Linked DNA regions of Homo sapiens. The protein of the gene in region 1 interacts with the protein of each later gene in a pairwise test. Each region holds a gene or a part of one and is shown in the gene's direction. Other genes may lie near its edges.

Evidence for each region. Proteins that work in one complex are often made in the same cells at the same time.
Region 2: the proteins of CREB3L1 (region 1) and TMEM208 interact in binary tests that used the Homo sapiens proteins (3 or more experiments, as listed by UniProt).
Region 3: the proteins of CREB3L1 (region 1) and SEC22A interact in binary tests that used the Homo sapiens proteins (3 or more experiments, as listed by UniProt).

The regions. Positions count from the first base shown.
Region 1 is NC_000011.10:46,280,621-46,287,766, forward strand, and holds part of CREB3L1 (cyclic AMP-responsive element-binding protein 3-like protein 1), read left to right. Parts: intron 1-7,146.
Region 2 is NC_000016.10:67,222,147-67,229,778, forward strand, and holds TMEM208 (transmembrane protein 208), read left to right. Parts: upstream 1-4,983; 5' UTR 4,984-5,072; coding exon 5,073-5,078; intron 5,079-5,572; exon of another isoform or gene 5,573-5,689; coding exon 5,690-5,785; intron 5,786-6,208; coding exon 6,209-6,268; intron 6,269-6,348; coding exon 6,349-6,485; exon of another isoform or gene 6,486-6,511; intron 6,512-6,650; coding exon 6,651-6,735; intron 6,736-6,829; coding exon 6,830-6,967; 3' UTR 6,968-7,132; downstream 7,133-7,632. Other genes in the region: FHOD1 (FH1/FH2 domain-containing protein 1), read right to left, coding at 7,490-7,572. UniProt on the Homo sapiens protein: May function as a negative regulator of endoplasmic reticulum-stress induced autophagy.
Region 3 is NC_000003.12:123,239,943-123,246,942, forward strand, and holds part of SEC22A (vesicle-trafficking protein SEC22a), read left to right. Parts: intron 1-5,956; coding exon 5,957-6,072; intron 6,073-7,000. UniProt on the Homo sapiens protein: May be involved in vesicle transport between the ER and the Golgi complex.

The DNA.
Region 1 (7,146 bases):
AACGTTCATCGTTGGCTTGATCCATAGAGACTGGATGGGCGTGATAGTGAGAATTGCTCAGCTACGAGTTGCTGTGTGAACATAGCAAGTCACTTTCCTTCTCTGGGGTCTCCATCTCCATATCCGAGGTTCTTTCCAGCTGAGATCCCATTCCAACCCTTCCCCCAACTTCTTCATTCTGCATGAGGATAGGAAAATGTTTCCAGGGTTAAGGATGGGTAGGGATGGCGTCTGTGTGCCTCTCAGTCTGGAAAATGGAGAGCAGAATATTCGCTATCCTCCTTAAAAATCCAGATACGGGCCATAAATCATGTGGAAATCATGTGTGCTCTGTTGCTCTGTGCAAAATGCAAAATGTATGCTCACCCTGAAAACAACTATGCAAGAAATACGCATGCACTTGGACAGACAGGAGAGTGAGTACACAAAGTCAAGACAAGTGTGTTTGGAGGTGGCTGGGCTGCCTTATTTTTCTTTCTATGAGGATACCTTCATGTTGCTGCAATTCTGTTTATGCGATTCTCAGAGATCCTCAGAAGGGGGCTGCCCTTCCTGTCCCATGTGGGGGCATCTCCTCCCTGCCCCTCCCGCTCTCCCATGGTTTCTGATGTGGCCACCCTTGAGCCACTGTACTCTGTGGTCCTTCAGCCCCTTGGCCAGTATGAGAGAGAGGGTCTGGGCTCCAAGAACTGGGATAAAGGACCAGAGGGAGAGCAGGTCGTTTCTCCAGATGGAAACACTAGGTCTGTGTGCTGTCCCCTCCTTCCTCTGGCTAAGGGGAAGGGATGTCTGGCTTCTCTAGAGGGAACTGGCTTGGGATCCCAGAGAAGCCCCAGCTGGGAGGGTGTGGGGAGGAGAAGGAGGAGGAAGAAAAGGTCTGTTTTCTCAGAGGGGAGCAGCAGGAAGCTGCAAGGATGTTTGCCCAGCACACCCGTTTACTCCCTGCAGCTGGGGAGGCCAGGTGTGGGAGTGACGGGGACCCAGGGACCAGCCCAGCATTGCGGGGAGGCGGTGGGGGCTAAGGCTGATCGCTACTCCCCACACGCCTAGCCTGGCTTCTCCTGAGCTAACTGGGAAGCAGAGAGGCACCCCCACCCCCAGCCTTCGGGAGATTTAGGGAGATTAGAGAAGTATGTGTGTTTGGGTGTTCCTATGTCTGTGGGTGGGCCTTTAACAGTCCTTAAAAGGGGAGATTTGTGTGTGTTTCTGTTTAAGTTCTCACCAACAGGAAAGAGGACAGAAGTGCTAAGGCACTCTGGTCTCAGAGTGCAATCTGCTAGAAAAGATCTAATGAAAAACCTACTGGAGGAGCCCAAATCTCAGGGTGCCTATTCAGAAAGGAGACCTCTGATACCTACTCTATCAAAACATTAAGTTCGTTTTGAGCAGAGGTTTGATTTGGGTTTTGCTTCCCCCAGTGTTGAGGGAACAGTTCCTTGAGTCAGGGGCTTGGTCTGTCTTGTTCACTGCTGTATCCCAGTGCCTAACAACCGTTGATGAATGAATAAATCGATGGATGGATGAATGAATGGATGGATGGATGAAGAAAAAGGGGCCCAAACCAGACCCCACATTCTTAGAGAAGAGGGAAAAGTGTCCTTAAGCCCATCTATTTGCAGCCATCGAGGTCCTGCAGACCCTGCACTGTCTCTGGGGTCCAGGAAGGGCTCTCCATGGTTTTTAATGAGTTCTCATTACCTTGAGCCATCCCCCTACTGCACAGGCCTCTGCAGCCCCTGGTCTAGAATAGTCTACAGCTGGCTGACCCACAGGGGATTTGAACTTGTGGCTCAGGTGTCACTCTTGAGCACTGTCTCTAGGGCTTCCGTTTTCCCCAGTTTCTTCTTCAGATTGCTCTAGGACTCCTGGATCCATACTCACCCAATTTAAGACTAAGCCTTTTCCAGCCCTGCCTCAGAGCCCTTGCACATGCTGTTCCTGTCATCTGGACTGCTTTTCCCCCAGTCTGTCCATCTCAGCCTTCTGATCCCAGCTCAAATATTGCCTCCTTAGGGAACGCTCCCTGACTACCTAAAGTGGGACCCCCCTGTTCTTTTCTGTTTTAGTCTTTTGATATCTTCTAGCCCTTAACCCAGTTTGCAATTATTTTAATGGCCTATTGTCTATTTCCTCCACGAGAAAGTAAGTTCCATAAGAGGAGAGTCCATATCAGTTTTGTGCATTGACATAAACCTAGCACAGTCACATGGGACAAAATAGATGCTCAATGTAGTAAAATTCTACAATAATGCAATAAATATGCCCAGTCAAAAATTTCCAATTATGTTCCTTTGCGGTGACTCATGCTTGTAATCTCAATGCTTTGGGAGACCAAGGTAGGAGGATTGCTTGAGCCCAGGAGTTCAAGACCAGTCTGGGCAACATAGGGAGACCTCGTCTCTACAAAAAATAAAAAAAAAATGAGCCGGGCATGGTGGCATATGCCTGTGGTCCCAGCCACTTAGGAGGCTGAGGAGGGAGGATCACTTGGGCTGGGGAGGTTGGGACTGCAGTGAGCCATAATGGCATCACTGCACTCCAGCCTGGGCAACAAAGCCAGACCCTGTCTCTAAAAGTAATAATAATAATACAAATTTAAAAATAAATTTTCCAATTACATAAAATGTGGAGTAATATTTTTGTAGAATTAACGAAAAACAGTATTTTTCAGATGGTCTGTACTATCACAAAAAGCAGGAAAGTAAAAATTGTGACACCTTACTGCACAAAGCAGACCAAACAGAAAGAGTACCACAGGAGCATGAGGCAGTCACTTTTTTTTACCAGCCCCATAGAGAATGGAGTTTTGCTCACTTTTATTTGAGAAGGGGCCTGAGCATAGAACAGAAGTCAAGTTTGGGTCACATTGTAGTGAACTTTGCTCTATTTCAAGGACTTACTATATTTGTAGAGAAAATTACTTTAGACTGGGGCAATCCTTGTAAGGGAAGGGAAAAATTGTTTTAAAAAAATCCCAGGCTGGATGTGGTGGCTCACACCTGTAATTCCAGTACTTTGGGAGGCGGAGGCAGGGGGATCACTTGAGGCCAAGAGTTTGAGACCAGCCTGGGCAACACAGAAAGACTCCGTCTCTACAAAAAATAAAAAATAAATTATCCAGGCATGGTGGCACATACCTGAAGTCCTGGCTGCTTAGGAGACTGATGTGGGATGATCACTTGAGCCCAGGAGTTCAAGGCTGCAGTGAGCTATTATCACGCCACTGCACTCCAGCCTGGGCAACAGAGCAAGACCCAAAAAATCAGATCTAAGTGTTCAAGAGGTGTACTTATGATTCCTGAAGGGATCCTGGGGTTTTCAGGATCCTGGACTGGCCATCCCTTAGGGTGGTGGGGATGCTGGGTCCCACAGAAGTGCTGTCTGTGCCCCGATATGTTGTGAGGTCCCTCCGGCTTCCCTGGACCAGCTGGGAATTCACTTGCTCATTCATTAATACACATGTCCATTCCTTCAGCAACTGGGCACTGAAGGAACATCTATGCTGGTGCCAGGGTAACCCAGATGAAGAAAACACACTTGACCCTCCAGTCAATCGCGGACGAATGAGAGAGACAGAGAGGGAAATAGGCAGTATCAACACCATGGTGGGCGCCATGATGGAGCAGAGCATGGCAGGAGGCTGAGCCAGGCTACAGGTCATGAAAGCTTTCTCAGAAGGTGATCTCTGCACATGCTGCCCCAATTTCCCTCTTCCTTAGTGGCAAAGGAGTTATTAGAAGGCTTTTCTGGCCAGGCATGGTAGCTCATGCCCATAATACCAACACTTTGGGAGGCTGAGGCAGGTGGATCACCTGAGTTCAGGAGTTTGAGACCAGCCTGACCAACATGGTGAAACCCCATCTCTACTAAAAATACCAAAAAAATTAGCCAGGCATGGTGGCATGTGCCTGTAATCCCAGCTACTTGGGAGGCTGAGCCAGGAGAATCGCTTGAACCCAGGAGGTGGAGATTGCAGTGAGCCAAGATCGCACCATTGCACTCCAGTCTGGGCAACAAGGGCAAAACTCCATCTCCAAAAAAAAAAAAAAAGGCATTTCCACAGGGACTGGGGCCATGTTCCTTTTACTGAACACGTATAGGCATTATTATCCATTGTGCACTCTGCTCAAGGGCAGGAGTCCTATGGAGAGTCAAAGAGGGGAGCAAGAAGAAGCTACAAGCAAGTTCTCTCATTGTTCTAGTTTGAGATTTCCCCTCTAGAGCAAGGAAAATTCAGGATCTTTCATATCACAGGGTCCCTGTCTTCATCCTCACCCACTCCCATCCTTAGGGCACCTTGGATGCCTAGAGCTTTATGGGCAAAACCAGATCCCCTGAATAAGCTCCCACATCCCATTTCACACCCTATCAGATTCACCCCCAGGATGCTGTTCCCCAGCCCTTCTGGGGACTTGGATCTTTGCTCTCTGCAGCTCCCAGGACTCCTCAGGAGACTCTGTTTCTGTCTGCCCTGGCCTGGCCTGGCTACTGCACCAGGAGAGGGGAGCATAAAGGACATCCCTGTTTTGTGTCTTCTCCCTGTATCATGTGCCTCGTGCGAGTCCTGGTACCGAGGCCCTCCTGGAGCATCTCTCTCTGGAACCTGGCTTGCCCTTGAACCTCCCTCAAGAAACCAGCTCCAGATGCTGGAGAACAGGCTGTTTCTCTGGAAGTCTCAGCACTCCTGGGGGCAGGATGGAGGAGGAATATTTGGGTGGAGTTAAGTCAAGACTGTGAGCTGGAACTCTGTGTAACCCTCTTGAGCAGCCCTGGGGAAGCCAGACTGAATGGCAGGACCCTGGACCAGGATTGGGGAATGTGTGGGGGTGGGATTGTCTGGTTCAGGAGAAGCTGGGAGAGGCAGGAAATGCCCCAGGACTCTGACCCTCAGAGGAAATATGTCAAAGGTATTGATTTCTTTGGAATGTCAAAGATCTTGATCCCCACCACCTAGACACACCATATTGTCTACAAGGCCAGTTTGATAGCTGGAGCAACCATGGGCTTCCCTGCCGCCGGGTTCAGTGTGCCTCCTCCCCTAATTCCCCTGGGACAGAGCCTTCACTGCCGCTTCCTTGGCCGTTGGCTCGTGGCTCGTGGCCCAGAAGCCACTTCACCCATCACAGAGAGTTTGACACATCTGGGCTGGGATGTGCGGTCCGACATAACAGCTGGACAGCAGCAGCCACTGGCTCCTCCTCCCCTTCCAAAAGAATAACAAAAATGAAAGTAGCGATGGAGTGAGGCAGGCTCTTCAGGCCTTCATGGAGAGCCAGGAGGCGGGTTTCAGGCAGTGATTGACAGGGGCTCGCTTTGGAGGCAGACAGGTCTGAGCCTTTGCCCATGGGTTCCCCTCCACCTGGAATACCCTCACCCTTCTTTACCTCATTTCCCTCACTTGCTGTGTGACCCTGGGCAAATCACTTTCCCTTTCTGGGCCTTGGCCTCCTCATTTCTGAACTAAACTGAGGGCTCCTTGAGAGCAGGGTGTGTCAGTCAATTATTTGCGGCTATTCCCTAGGTACAGCTATAATGACTGAGTGCTCAGGAAATGTTTATTTATTGGATGGATGGAAGGAAGGCAGGATGGAGTAGGGTGGGGACGATAGAGGAATGAATAGGTGGGTGGATAGATAGTAAAAGAAAGGACACTTCTACACTTCCAGCTTTGATGGCCCTCTTTTTTAAAGTAGATTGCTTCATTCGTTCACTCATTTGATTACTCAAATCGTGAATGTTAGCATAAATGCCATCTCTCCCTTTCACTTTATCATCATGGCCTTTTCTATTATGATATCTTGTGCACTGGTAGAATATATAGACTGTATATCTATCAGTTATAAAGTATAATAAAATTAATACATGGAAACTTACCCAGCTTAAGAATCAGACTCAGGGCCGGGCATGGTGGCTCATGCCTGTAATCCCAGCACTTTGGGAGGCTGAGGCGGGTCAGTAGTTTGAGACCAGCCTGGCCAACATGGTGAAACCCCGTCTCTACTAAAAATACAAAAATTAGCCAGGCGTGGTGGCGGGAGCCTGTAATCCCAGCTACTCAGGAGGCTGAGGCAGGAGAACTGCTTGAACCCAGGAGGCGGAGGTTGCAGTGAGCCGAGATTGAACCACTGCACTCCAGCCTGGGCAACAGAACAAGACTCTGTCTCAAAAAACAAACAGACAAACAAAAAGAAAAAAGAAAAAGAAAGAAAGAAGAAAGAAAAAGAAAAGAAAACACACTCGGTTCTGAATATCTTGGTCTCTCAAAGCTGCATGAGTTTGGGACAGAGGTGAGCTGTAGACCCTGAATCCACCCCACTCTGGGGAGATTTTAAACAGGAAAGTCCCAAGACTTCCCAGGTGCGTACTCCCAGGCTCAACGTGTGCAGACAGTGGGTCCACAGGTCAGATGGCAGATGATGAGGCAAGTGCTGGGGAAGTGATCCTTGCCTGAGGCGGGACGTCTTCAGCACTGCTTAGACCTGGGGCCTCCCACTTGTCACCTGTGTGAGCTTGGGCAGGTGCTTTAACCTCTCCAAGCTTATTTTCCTCATCCAAAAGTAGGGTTCATGGTAAAACATAGGGTTCTTAAGAGAATTCCATTAGAAATTCTTGCAGAGGGCCTGGTACACCATAAACCCTCTATAAACAATAGTTGCCACTGCTGTTTTTATTGTTTTGGTTTTTAAATTTTTTTTTGAGACAGGGTCTCACTCTGTTGCCCAGGCTGGAGTGTAGTGGCACAAACACAGTTCACTGCAGCCTCAACCTCCCGGACTCAAGTGATCCTCTCACCTCAAACCCCTGAGTAGCTAGGACTACAGGGACATACCACCATGTCTGGCTAATTTTTTGTATTTTTTGTAAAGATGTTTTTTTTGCCATGTTGCCCAGGCTGGTCTTGAACTCCTGAGCTCAAGCGATCCTCCCTCCTTGGCTCCCAAAGTGCTAAGATTACAGGCATAAGTCACCACACCTGGACAATTTTTAATTTTTGTGGGTACATAGTAGGTTAGATATTTATGGGGCACATGAGATATTTTGGTACAGGCATGTAATACATAATAATCACATGATGGGACAGGTGCGGTGGTTCACGCCTGTAATCCTAGCACTTTGGGAGGCCGAGGCGGGTGGATCACAAGGTCA
Region 2 (7,632 bases), on another chromosome or scaffold:
AAAAAATAAATAAATAGAAATAAAAAAAGAAGCGCGGCACAGTGGCTCACGCCTGTAATCCCAGCACTTTGGGAGGCCAAGTGGGTGCAGATCACTTGAGGTCAGGAGTTCGAGACCAGCCTGGCCAACATGGCGACACCCCATCTCTACTAAAAATACAAAAATTAGTCAAGTGTGGTGGCACACACCTGCAATTCTGGCTACTTGAGAGGCTGAGGCAGGAGAATTGCTGAGGCGGAGGTTGCAGTGAGCCGAGATTGCGCCATTGCACTCCAGCCTGGGTGACAGAGCAAGACTCCATCTAAAAAAAAAAAAAAAAAATTAGCTGGGCATGGTGGCGTGTGTCTGTAATCCCAGCTACTTGGGAGGCTGAGGCAGGAGAACTGCTTGAACCCAGGAGGCAGAGCTTGCAGTGAGCCGAGATAGCGCCACTGCACTCTAGCCTGGGCGACAGAGCAAGACTCTTATCTCAAAAAAAAAAAAAAAAAAAAAAAGAAAAAGAAAAAGTCCATACAAATGGAATAGAAAAATACTAAGACCTTAATAGTTAAATGGATACAGAACATGAATAAACAAAAGGGGGAAATATGAAGGGTGAACTAATGAGAAAAACAGTGCAACCTCACTAATAAACAAATCAAAATTAAAACAATGAGCCATCACTGCCTGCCTTTCAAACTAGCCCAGATGTCTGCATTCACCTCCTGGCTGGCCTCCTCCCTATGCTGTCTCACTCTCCCAGTCCACTCTGCACTGCAGAGTTCTAATACAAATCACGCTGTGTCACTTGCCTGCCTAATGGGCTCCTTGATGGTCACCAGGAGAAAGCCAAACTCTGCTGCCTGGCACATCTGCCAGCTTGCAGCCTGATGCCATTCTAGCCTCGCCTCCTGCCATGTCTCACTTAGTTCCAGCCAAATGGAACTTGTGTGATTGGTTCCACACCATGGTGCCTTCACTTATGCTATTACTGATCCCAGAAGCCCAACCTTTCTTCTCATCCTGTTCCTTCAGGAAGCCTTCCCTGACACCACCAGTCTCCTCTGGATGTCCTTCTTCATGTTCCGTCAAACTCTTTTTTTTTGAGACAGAGTCTCGCTCTGTTGCCCAGGCTGGGGTGCAGTGGCGCGATCTCGGCTCACTGCCATCTCTGCCTCCCGGGTTCAAGCGATTCTCCTGCCTCAGCCTCCAAGTAGCTGGAACTACAGGTGCACACCACGCCACCACACCCAGCTAATTTTTGTAATTTTAGTAGAGACAGGGTTTCACCATATTGGTCAGGCTGGTCTCGAGCTCCTGACCTCAGGTGATCTACCCGCCTTGGCCTCCCAAAGTGCTGGGATTACAGGCGTGAGCCACTGCGCCCGGCTGTCCCCGTCGAACTCTTTCTTCCCAGTGTCACAGCGCTGAGCACACGATAGCATGATCATTCATATTACTCGTCTTTCTCCTTCACTGGAATGTGAGCTCCTTAGGGAACTATGTCTTATTTATCTGTATAGCCCCAGCACTGTACCCAGAGCCAAGTATGTATGAATGTATGTATATATGTGTATGTATGAGCATATGAATGGATGGATGGATGGATGGATAGATGGATGGAGATACATGAGCAGGGCCACGAGTAAGCTGAAGTAAGAAACACCTGAGGATGGGACGGGGGAGGGTGGGTGCCTTACCTCCCGAAGGGCATTCTGGGCAGCACGGTACCAAGCCCAACTCACGAGGGAGGCCTCTTTCTGATCTGACAGAGGCAGGAAGCTCAGAATATATGTGAGCATCTGAGGGAAAAAGACAGGGCATTGGGGACTGTTAGAGGTGGGAGGTCTTTGGAACCCACTCCAGCTGACAGCACCATGGGTCTGAGGGCACCAGAGCCCTGGCTTCTACTTTATCTTGGATGTGAAGCTTCACGAAGCATTCACTTCCCCGCTCCAGGCTTCAGGTATCTTTCCTGTAAACAAACCTTTCCTGAGCTGGGTGCAGGCTTGCACTGACTGATAAGAATCAAACTTCCTGCCTAGCTGGGTAGAAAAAGCCTGGGCATTGAGGCCAGATAAACCTAGTTCAAATCTCTACTCTGCCAACTGACCTCTCGAACTTTGTTTTCCTTATCTGTGAAATTGCAATTGTAGTGAGATTTAAATGGATTATTGTGAGAATTAAAGAACACAGCCAAGTGTCTTGCATAGGACCTAGAGCACAGCAGGCCAGGTGTGCTCACTCTGGTCCTCAGGAAGTCATGCTTGGTCCTCCTGCCCTCATGGCTCAGGCTCTGGGACCCTGCTGTTTTTCTGTCTTCTTCACTGCCACCTTGCCCTCTCCACTGGTTGTTAAGATGCGCTCCCAGCAAGACCTAGCCTGGGAGGCTCAGGCCCTTCCCCCCACCTAGGGGGTGGTGAGGTTAGAGGTCCTAAATGGGACTGGGGAAGGGGTTACCAGTGAGGCCTAGAATGATTTGATATTAACTCTTCTTTTCTTCTGGAATCTTCCTCCCTGCATCCCAATTGTCTCGTTTTTGGATTCTTCTGTGGCTCCCAGGGCTCAGACCTGGGTCTTTTGGTTTTCTGTTTACCAACACAGGAATAACCAACAATTCAATATTCCCATATTGTCCTATTATCCAAGTGCTAGTCCATATTGCCAACTGTCCATGCAAATGTTTAGCCATCACTTTAATCTCAACCAAAACTCATGTTCTACCCTCAGCCCAAAACAGCCTCTCCTCCCAAATTCCCCTTTCAATGCCAACAGTGCATCTACCTGATAACACTTTCAACTATTCAAACCATTCTGTCCCTTCCTCCCAGATACAGGTGTAATGCACAGGCTTTAGGCCAGGCTAACCTAAACTCATTCAAATTCCAGCTCCACTACTTCCACATATACTGATGTGTGACCTTAAACAAGGTACTTGACCTCTGGGAGTTTCAGTTTCCATATCTATAAAATAGGGATACTTTAAAAAAATCTAGATCATAGCCTCATGGGGATTAAATTTTACATATATATAGTGTGTGTGTGACAACTAGATGTTCCATAAATGGTTGCTGGATTGCTGTTACTAAAATTTCTACCTCTGCAACTTCCCCACCTCAGTAGCTCAGATTTCTACCACCCCAAACCTGGATTCCTTCCACAATCTCCCACCTGAACTCTTTGCCTCCAAGTTCATCCTTGCTAATACATTATGCACACTGTCACAAGGTTAATTTTTCCTATAAAACAGTTTTCAGTTTCAGCTCACCCCTGCTGTAAAACTTCAGGGTTCACAGTACTCTCAGGACAGTCTCCACTCCTGGATCAGCACTGCCAGGCCTCTGTGCCTGATTGGACTCGCTGGTCCCCAAACTTCCCCAGTCCAGTCTCCCCATTGCCCTACGCACACAGCATGTCTATTTCCTTTTGCCTATGCGGGCCTTTTCCCTGGGATCCCCTTCTTGAAGCTTAACTTCACCAACCCATTGTGATCTCTCCTTCCTTTCTCAGATGCCAAGCACGCAGGCACAGTGCTCAGCCAGTGCTTACTGGATTAAATTAAGGTTGGACAGTCCAGTCCTCTACCTCTATTTTCACCAAGAGTATGCTCAGGGAAGGGGTCGGGGAAATAAAGCAGTCATTACTGAGAGGACAATGACTGGCAGAATAGACTTCTGGGCCAGGAAGGGAGGCATAGGGAAGACAGTATTGATGGGGACTGGGACTGACCAAGTCCCAATCCCTCCAGGGAGGCACGGAAGCCTGTTTGAGCTGAGTTAAGACAGTGGCCATCCTGTCTTCTGGGGCTAAGCAGCCAGCCCAAGAGCAAAGGGAGAGGGGAACAAACCTGTCATCCCTTGGGGTGAGTCGGGAAGGGACACAATTCATTGACCTAAGAAGAGGGTGGCCTTTCTAGAGGGACAAGAGGAGGCAGTGATGAGGATGGAGTGACCATCCCATGAGTCCCATCTCAAGGGGGCTACTGGAGATAATGATTGGTCACTCATGGGGTCTATGGGGATGGAAATAGATAGCCCCTAAAGCTAAGGGGGAAAGGGATAGCACTGCAAGCTCAATAGGGGTGGGAACAGGCCTATTTTTGCTAAGGACAGGAGCATCATTCCAGGACCGATGGGAAAGGGTGGCCTGTTTCCCATGGGCAGAGAGAGGGGGCTGCCAACCCTCAGGACAAAAGAGATGGAGAAGCCATTCCAACAGGCCACTGAAGACAAAACCTGTTATCTCCCTGGCAGATGGGGCAGAGTGGTCTTGCCCCTGGCTAAGGGGAAGGAGCAAACATCCCACGGAGTGAAAGAGGTAAGGGCGGCCATCACTAGGGGCCTAGGAATGGGGAACAGGCCTATCCTTGTTAAAGGAACTCAGAGATCATTGCAGTTGATGGGGAGGGAGCAGTCTGTTTCCCACTGCCAGGGAGAAGGGGCGGCCGTCTCTGTAGGAAATGGAGAGATCATCCCAAGGGACCAATGGGGATAAGATCAGTTACCCTTCGGGACGATGAGATGGAGCGGACATCTTCCAGAACTGAGCGGGGAGGAGACAGCCACTTCAAGGGAAGGGGATGGGCAGAGGGCCTGTTCTCGCGGAGATGACAGGGCAGCTATCTTCTGGGGCCGATAGGGAAGGGGAGGACGGTCCCCCAAGCTAAAGGGACAGAGTGGCCCAAAGGAGGAACCGTTACCCAGAGCTAGAAGGTCCCGGGATCGGGAGGGCGGGTCGTTTCCGCCAGGCTGGAGGGGCCGGGCTAGCTATCTGACAGCCCCTCCCCAAAGCTCAGGACCGCGAGGGCGGGGCCTGTCCAGAGCTAGGCCTGAGGGCGGCTTCCTCTCACCTCCAGGGGCAGCGACTCCGCCATCGCATCCCTGCCGCCTCCGCCCCCACTGCGCAAGGCTTTCTGGGAAATGTAGTCTCGCCTCTTTGGGGCGGGGCTTGGGAAGGAAGTGAGACCTATTTCCGTCGCAAAAGCTGACGACTTCGGTCTGCGCCGGAAGTGCATGAGCTGCCGATGTGGTGCTTAGTGATTGCGGTTTCGGTCGCTCTCCCGTGTTTCCCGGGCTGGGTATTTGCCTCGCACCATGGCGGTAAGGAGGATGGATAGGGCGGGGTCCGCACCAGCAAAGCTCTCCAGGGGCTGTGAGAGTGAAAACTGAGAAAGAACATTAAGGGATATGGGGTGGGCCAGAGCGGGGCGCCATCCCTGGCCAGACCGTGCTAGAGCTGGGCTGGGGGGATGGCGGCGCAGGACCATACCAGGACTAGTGCCAGAGCGGGGTGGGCATCAGTACCAGGGCAGGCCAGAGATCTAAGTGACCTGAGGTGGGGGTTAACCCAGATCGGGACTACGCCAGCGGAGGCCTGAGAGAGGCACCATTCAACTCCGCTCAGGAGTACCCTTGGAAGAGTCGTTAGCCTAAAGCCAGACTACCACGGGATCCAGAGGCGGTATTAGCTTAGGATTGAATTGTTCCAGGGCGAGCAAGAGGCGATTGATCCTAGCTGCGGGTGCTGGAGAGATGGCGTCAGCCCTAGGCAGAATGGACTGGAGGATGGGTGGACATCCCAGGGATTTTGCTAGGTTTCTGCACTACGGGGACCTGGCTGAGTTGCGGATGGAGCTCTATAGCTCACCAGGCTGGTGGGGAGAATGAGGAGGACCGTGGCCTCCTGACGGCATCTCATCATTCCTCTGCAGCCCAAGGGCAAAGTGGGCACGAGAGGGAAGAAGCAGATATTTGAAGAGAACAGAGAGACTCTGAAGTTCTACCTGCGGATCATACTGGGGGCCAATGTAAGTGCCTACCTCCTTGCTTCTATGCCCACTTATAGTCAGTTCCCTAGTCCTCAGCCCTGCTTGGTGACGAGGAGTGGTACCCGAAAAAGCTCTAGAAGAGAGCTCCAGTCAAAAAGAAATGAGAGATCTGGGCACAGAGAAAGTGCTAACTAGTAAAACACAAAGAAAATGAAGGCGTGAGTCGTAGCTGAATTTGAGAGCTCTTCCTACCTCCAAGTACACAAAGGCTTCTTTCCTGGGCTGAGTTGGGTGTCAGAGGAGAGTGGGTATTTGGGATTCAGGGAGCAGGGCCCTTTCTTCAACCCTGTAAGAACAACCTTGCTCCTCCCACAGCCTGGCCTAATTCTTGGTCAGAGTTGAGGGAGACCCATGGTTTGGAGGTAACTTCTGACCCCAACCTGATCCTGTGATTGCTTGCAGGCCATTTACTGCCTTGTGACGTTGGTCTTCTTTTACTCATCTGCCTCATTTTGGGCCTGGGTAAGTATCTCCATCCTGGGAGGTGGATGAGTGCGTAGGGTCAGTGGCTGGCCTTTGATACCCTCATTCTTGCTCTGCAGTTGGCCCTGGGCTTTAGTCTGGCAGTGTATGGGGCCAGCTACCACTCTATGAGCTCGATGGCACGAGCAGCGTTCTCTGAGGATGGGGCCCTGATGGATGGTGGCATGGACCTCAACATGGAGCAGGGCATGGCAGAGTGAGTGTCCCCCACCGCCAGCCCAGGTGAGCGGCCCCAGGGCTGGGGCCCAGATAGCCCAAGAAGCACAGCTACTTGTAACTTGAAAAGGGTGGAAGGGAGTTGCAACTTGAAAAGGGTGGAAGGGCCCATATGCTGTCTTTCCAGCTTTATTTCTATCCACAGGCACCTTAAGGATGTGATCCTACTGACAGCCATCGTGCAGGTGCTCAGCTGCTTCTCTCTCTATGTCTGGTCCTTCTGGCTTCTGGTATGTGGGCTGGGGGCGCTCCCAAGAAGGGGCATCTAACCCTCCCCATCTTTTATTCCCTGCATCTTGCTTCAAGTTACCGTTTCTCTTGTAGGCTCCAGGCCGGGCCCTTTACCTCCTGTGGGTGAATGTGCTGGGCCCCTGGTTCACTGCAGACAGTGGCACCCCAGCACCAGAGCACAATGAGAAACGGCAGCGCCGACAGGAGCGGCGGCAGATGAAGCGGTTATAGCCATTGACATTGTGGCCACAGGCCACTGGCCCTGGGTGGCTCTGTCAGGGTGCACAGCCCCTCATGCCTGGAGCAATGAGGGTCTAGTCCAGGGGCCAAAAGCAGTCTGAGGTATTGGGTATACTTATACTCTATAGGGTCGTTGAATAAATGGCTTAGAATGTGGCTGATGGCTGTGTGGGTGATGAGGGATGAGGCAGGAAAAGCTGGTCCTATGGGATTTCCCTCCTGCTACAAACCCAGCCTGGTGGGGACCCTGAAAGAAGAGAAACCTGTTGGATTAGCTAAGAAAATTTTATTTTGCTCCGTGCGTTCAAGGAGCTCACACACATGCACATGCATATGCATGCACACACACACATACACACACACTCACATGCATACACACACGGCTAATACTGCTCAAGGCATGGCTCCTGGGCACAGAGTTCTGGGGCCAGAATTCTGCTCTGGGCCCTCCTCACTCTGTCATCTCCTGCACTGCAGTCCAGGGTCCAGATAGATTTCCGGGATACAGCACCTTCACACCTCCAGGCCAGGACCCTTGCTTAGTCCCAGTGCCTGCACCAGGTCATCTCCGAGCCCACTCTTCAACGTCCTTCTCACTGCAGGGACAGAGCAGGGTTGGAGGGGGTTGATGGGGTTCAGGTGGGCAGTGGGATTGT
Region 3 (7,000 bases), on another chromosome or scaffold:
GCTAGTTTGAATAATTTCAATGGACTCTGGGGCATAGGTTCTATCTCTGGTTGTCTGACATGTGGCCCTGGGATGATTGGGATAGGGAAATAATGGCCCTGGCTGTGAGAGCCTTGTAGAGGAGTTGGTTGGTAGTGTGAGTCTGGATTGATTGGAATGCGTATGAAAGGTGGACTCAGACAAGTTGTTTGCCATCACTAGGAATTAGCTATCCCTGGGAGAGGCAGTTCTTCCATGGTCAGCAAGGCCCAAGAGGTCAAAGCATCAAAAATACAGAATAAAAAGACATGATTACTAAACACCCTTATCACAATATAGGACATTTCCATCTCCCCCGAAAAGTTTCTTTGTGTCCCTTTTCAGTCAATTTCCACCATCCTCTAGACAACGACTGTTTTTATTTTTTTCCACTTGAACTTTGTTTTGTTCCAGAACTTTATATAAAAGAAGACTACATTGTGTGACTATTGTGTTCAGCTTCTTTTGCACAGCATGATGTCATACATACATGTTGCCTGTCTCAGTAATTTGTTCCTTTTTATTCCTGAGCGGTATTCCATTGTATGAATGTACCACAATTTGTTTATTTATTCTCTTGCTGATGGACGTAAACTTGTTTCAGTTTTTGTTATTGCACATAAAGCTACGATGAACATTCATCCTTTTGTTGACATATATTTTCATTTCCCTTGAGTAAATATTAGGAGTGGAATTGATAGGTCAAAAGGTTGCCTGTTTAAGAAACTGCCAGTTTTCTGAAGTAGTTGTAAGATTTTACTTTCCCAACAAGCAATTTGTGAGCATTTTGATTACTCAACATCTTCACCGACATTTAGTGTTGTTAGTCTTTTTACTTTTATGTTGTGCTTTAAAAAAAAAACTTCACAAAACCCTAAATTTAGGGTTTAAACTGATAGAAACACTTCTGTCAGTTTCTTTGACACTTGTATATTTTTCATCTATTTTATCATTTTCTAGAAAATTTGTCAGTTGCCTGAAAATGCTGCTCTGTTTTGGCTGGTGCCCACAAGCCAAATAGATTTACTAATCTCTCTTTCTTACACACACACACACACACACACACACACACACACACACACATCCCCTTCATAATCCAACAGGTATTTATCATTTTTTTTCTCTAAAGTATTATGCTAAATTTTGTGGAGGCATTTTTTAGAAATACAGTAAACACATTAACTGTACTCAGAATGAGAAAGGGAAATACAATCCAATAAGTAAAACACAAAGTAGAATGTGATACATGCTCCAAAAGAGGTAAGAAGGAAGACTCAGGTCTTGGAGCCTTGAAGGATATGCATGATTTTTACAGGTGGTGATGATAAAGAAGGGCCTCACTGATGAAAAGAATAGTGTGTTTTTGTGCCAGACTGTTAGTCTCATTCAGTCACACTTCAGTAATAAATTAGGCTCATTTAGATGGAACTGACTTGAAATTTCTCTCTTATCTTCCACAGTCTGTTTCCCTAGGCATTGTGGGCATCTTTGAGATTTCGAATGGTACCATCTCTTTGAATCGTCATAAGGACTATTCTGGGACTTTGCTTCATCAATTATTTTTCCTTTTTCTTGATTCTTCTATTTCATCTTCACTGAATTATTTCATTCCACCTATGTATGTATTCAAGTCTTCCTCCCTCCCTCCAACACTGTAAGAGAAAAAAGAATTATTTTCTCAATCCTATTATCTCTGTTAAGCTTTCATCCTGTTTTTCTCTCCTTTAACTTCAGTAGTATTCACTTAATGCTTCCACCTCTTAACATCGCCAGTTGTTCAACCTCTTGCAATCTGAATTTGATAAGGAAAATGTGGTTCATATACACAATGGAGTACTGTTCATCCATGAAAAAGATGAGATCCAGTCATTCGCAACAGCATGGAGGGAACTGGAGATCATTAAGTAAAATAAGCCAGGCACAGAAAGACAAACATTGCATGTTCTCACTTATTTGTGAGATCTAAAAAGCCCTCAACCACTTTTCTGGAAAAAAAAAAAAAAATTTTAAGGAGAATCCTAGCATCTCCTGTTCAATAAGTCTAATACTTTTTACTTTAAGGTCAGATTTTTTTTGGCCTATCTATAGGCACTGTTAGCCATATCTTTCTTCTTGATGGTCTCTCCTTCCTAGGTTTCACTTGATTCTCCTGCATCTGCCTTCCCTGACTCTTCTTCCATCCCTTACTGACAGTGTTTACCAAGGATTTCCCTTGGCCTGCTTCTTTCTTTGACGCTCATTTAAACCTTTCCCTTCAGTTGCAGACCTCGTCTGCTTCTCCCAGCTATTCCATTCTTCAGTTGCTTGTTAAACACGGCCCACCATCACCTCAAATATGATGTTAAAATGTCCCCATTTTTTATCAAACTTAAGTTTCTTCCTGTGGATCTGTTGCTCAGTACTCTCATCTTTCCGATCACCTAGAGGTAAAACCTCAACATTTCTTTGAATTTTTTTCCCCCTTTTGTTTGCCACATCTAATTAGTTGCCAAGTCTAATAATTTTAACCTCCATGACATCTTACTTCTTTTTCCCCATTTCTTTTTTTTTTTTAATTTTAGCTTTATTCTTTAATGAACTCCCAAGCACTCAGATTCCCATTTCTACTGTGACTATTCTGATTCAGGCCCTGATTTCAGTCAGTCTTTTGCAGTGACTCTCCCACAAACTTCCTAATGTAGAACTGTAGAAAGAGCATGGGCTCTGCAGTCAGATAGACCTAAGTGCTAATTGTGAAGATGGCCCTTCTGGCTGTCTGACTTATAGAAAATAATTTAATCTTAATTGACAGATGAGAAAGTTTAGGCACAGAAAAGTTAGTCATTCCAGTTCAGTCACAGAGAAGTTAGTCATTTCTACCTCATGAAGTATGCCATTCTGAAGGGTAAATGAGACAATGGGTGCTTAGTGAGAAGGTACTCAGAAAAATATTATTTCTCCCTCCCTTACTTTTGATCTCTTTACAACCCATTAATAGATTAATCTTCTTTAAGTATAACCTTCATCATATGAGAATCTTGTTCTTCAGTGGTTCCCCATTGTCTAATTTTCCATAATTCTTAGCCTAGAATTGTATACTATCAATTTGTGTCCACCTCCCTTTCTGACCTTATTTCTCCCCACTTGTCACAAACATCGCTTTGAGCCAAACCAAACCACTAGCAATGCCCTATAGCAGAATGGCTGAGAACATGAATTCCAGAATCATCTAAATCCCAGTTCACGTACTTACTTTGTGCCCATGAGCAAATTATTTAATGTCCCTAAACCTTTCCTATTCTGGGAGGGGTGGGGAGGGGGCGGGGTGGGGCAGAAAACCAGGATAATTATAGTGCCTACTGCATTGGGTTGTTGGAAGGATACAGTGAGACCAAGTATATAAAGCACTTGGTGCCTGGCGTGTTGAGAGCAGTCACTGTTGGTAGAAGTAGTAGTTGTTGATGCTGTTGTTACTCGTTTCTCCCATTTCCATCTCCATCACATTCACATTCTTTTCTCTGCGTGGAATGCATTTCTTCCCCTTTGTACCTGACTACATTTTATCTATCTTCAAAGCTCTTTCCTGGTTCTAGACCACCCTCCCCCTACTTTATCTTTCCACTTCATCATTCCTTGCCTCTTTTAGCTTAGAATGCTTATTACTTTCATATACTTATCTGTTTTATCTCTTTTATAAAAGACTAGAAGTGCCTTGAGGGCAGAATATGTAATTCAATTTTTGTATCTTCGAAAGCATAGCATCTTACACAGAACCATGCCAGAAAGTATTTACTGAATAAATATATTAATTTACTGTAACCAATAGCTCTTTGGTTCCTTTGGTTCTAAGGGGTTTATTCTTACTTCTTTAGGAACTTTTGCAGAGTCTCCATAAACCATTGGTACATTTTCAGAAACATTTAATTTTGTTATCAACATGCCATCCTTGGGTTCAAGAAGACTAAAGAAAAGACTTTATAGGAGAAGGCAATAATAACAAAAGCAAAACAAAAACTGACCAGATGACACTGCTTTGGATTCAGCAAAATTATTGTTTTTCTACACTGCCTCTTATTTGTTATTGTTACAAACATTCTACACCAAATATTATAGTACCTAGAATGGTGCCAAATTAAGCATTTTTGGATAATAGTGGATCTAAAATCTGTTTTACTGAAGTAAAAAAAATAACAAATAGTTAATACATTAAAATGTGATTAAATATCTAGTTCAGTTTGTTAAAATGAGAAATTATTAAGAAGTGTCACCTTCTTATGTTGTGGGCAGATGGAGTATTCTCTTGATAACTTCTCAAGGAACAAGCCACAGAACCTGGGAAGTGGGTGGGGGCGGAAGTGGGGGAATCTCTAGAATTTCTTCCCCACAGTGATTTGGCACAACGCCAGCTGTCCTTCAGCAAAGGTGTACTGTGTTCTTGTTAAAGGAGACTTATGCTTTTTAAAGGCTTTTATGCCTTTAAATGTATAGACGAATTAGATAGATTTTTAAATCGTGAATTTTTTTTTCTTTACTGATATAACACTTGGAAGCAATATTGAATAGTGACATTTAATTTTCTGTTGTCATATTACAATATCAAGGAAATTGATTGAGAGCAGGCAGCTTGGGCACCAGAGAAGTTTAAGAAAATGTTATATAAGCACTTTCTGCTGAACTTGGGGAATAAATACTTTTTTGTGATATGTAGATTCTTGTGTTTTTATAACTGTTTAGGGAAGATGTTCTGCTATAATGGCTGAATATAAGTTGCAGAGATTTAAACCCGCCCTTATATTAATGTTCCACCTCATTAACTTAATTGTTAGGGCGTTTACACTTCAGTGATTTAAATAAAATACTCTAAATGTGGTTCTGTTGTCTTTCCCTCTGTCTCCTGTTTGAGGTCTAGATGATTATGTATTTAGTTATGTGTTTTCATGTAGACCCTGTTGTTAATTCTATTAAGCGTAAGATGATGATGAAGGGAAGCTATTGTATAACTTTTGTGCTGCTGCAGCCCTGGAAGATAAGGGAATGTATTTATGAAACTAAAATGGTCACTTATTCAGCTGGTGTTTTGTCATTTTTACCTTCCAGTGTTATTCAGAGGACCAGGAACTTCATAGCTATAAGACTCCATTCTGTTTTGGAGTTCAGATTGCTGATTATATATGAGCTTTCACATGTATCCAGTGATATTTATAGCCCTAGAACCCAGATAAGGCAAAGTTTTGCTTAAAAGTAAGCTATGTTTGTACTTTAAAATGTTTCCTAAGCATTTTCAGAAAAAGTAGGATTATGCAATGAATTTCCAAGCAAAGTCACCTTTACAAATACTTTCACCTACCTGCAAATAGTAGACATATTTATGCAGTAAGGTTTTTTCTAAATGATTTACTGCCGGTTGTGAGCATCCCTTAGCACTGTCTATCCCAAATGCAAGTTACATGTCTTTGTTAAAAACATAGAGAAAGGCCAGATGCAATGTCTCATGCCTGTAATACCAGCACTTTGGGAGGCCAAGGTCAGAGGATCACTTGAGGCCGGGAGTTCAAGACCAGCTTGGGCAACATAGTGAGACTCTGTCTCTATAAACAATTCAAGAAAAAATTAGCCAGGCATGGTGGCACGTGCCTGTAATCGTAGATAGTCGGGAATCTGAGGCACGAGGGTCGCTTGAGCCCTTGAGTTTGAGGCTTGTAGCGAGCTGTGATTGTGACCCTGTCTCAAAAAAAAAGGAAAAAGAGAAAAATAAGTTAATTTTTCAGGGAAATGAAGCTTTTATGTTGTCAAGCATTTTTCATTTTATAACAGTATTTAATTGTGAATATATGGTGTTAAATAATTCTATGAAGTATCTGCTTGACCCATTTAAGTTGAGCAGTGAATTTCTGTTTTACCTAAGTTCATCTTTGTGAGGTATTGGTGTTCATTTCTAACTATTTCTTTTATTTTCCAGCTCACCAGCGACTGGAACCAGCAACTCTGTCAGGGATTGTAGGATTTATCCTTAGTCTTTTATGTGGAGCTCTGAATTTAATTCGAGGCTTTCATGCTATAGAAAGTCTCCTGCAGGTACTGTGCTATTTTTGCAATTTCAGGTGACTGTGCCTCTTCATTCTACTGGTTACATAATTGATTTGAATTGGATTGGGTATTAGTATAATTTACAGTGCATACTCAAAATCTATGTTTTTTTATATCTGCTTTAGCCTCCTTCTAAAAACACTGGTTGGCTTCTTTGATTCCATTGGCACATGTTTATCATCTGCTCTTTAGGAGGCACTATTTATAGGCACCCTGGGGACCCCAAGATGTGTGTGACATAGGCCTTGCAGTCTCATAACTGAAAGTTGAACTGGGGAGGCAAGAAAGTAATTGCCAAATACACAGAGTTGGGAAGGGGGAGAGGTCAGTATAATCAGGATTGGAGAAGGAAGGTTTTGTGGAGGAGAGTTGAACTGGTCCTGGAAAGATCTGATCAGACAGAGAGCAGTGGAAGAATGAAGAGGGCACACGTGGGCTGTGTTTATTCCACTTCTGTGTATTCCCTACTTAGTTCATCTGCTTCTTTTTCTTTTTTTGTTAGTGGCTTCTTAAAACTTGAGCTTCCTAGAAAACCACAAATTTATTCAGATATTGCTAACTATTACATTTTCAAGTGGAGTTCCTTTCAGAAGCTATAGCTATCAGAATATACTAATTTTTTCTCTTATGCTTTTTGTAAACTTTTTGAAATTTTTTTTTAAGTTTAGCACATTTGAGACTGCACAGCTTTCCTTTCCCTTATTTCTATTCACTTTCTCTGAAGAACTCTTGACACTCTCACATTATGAATCAGTCCTCTTTTTTTGGTCAGCATTAAGTGCAGAATACCATTTGTAAAAATCCACTGAGCACACTTTATATTCTGTTTTTAAATTGCTGTTAGTTTGGGGAACCCTCAGAGGGTATCTTTCTGCATCTGTTTAGCCATGTAAAGCCAACAGCAGATGACATCACA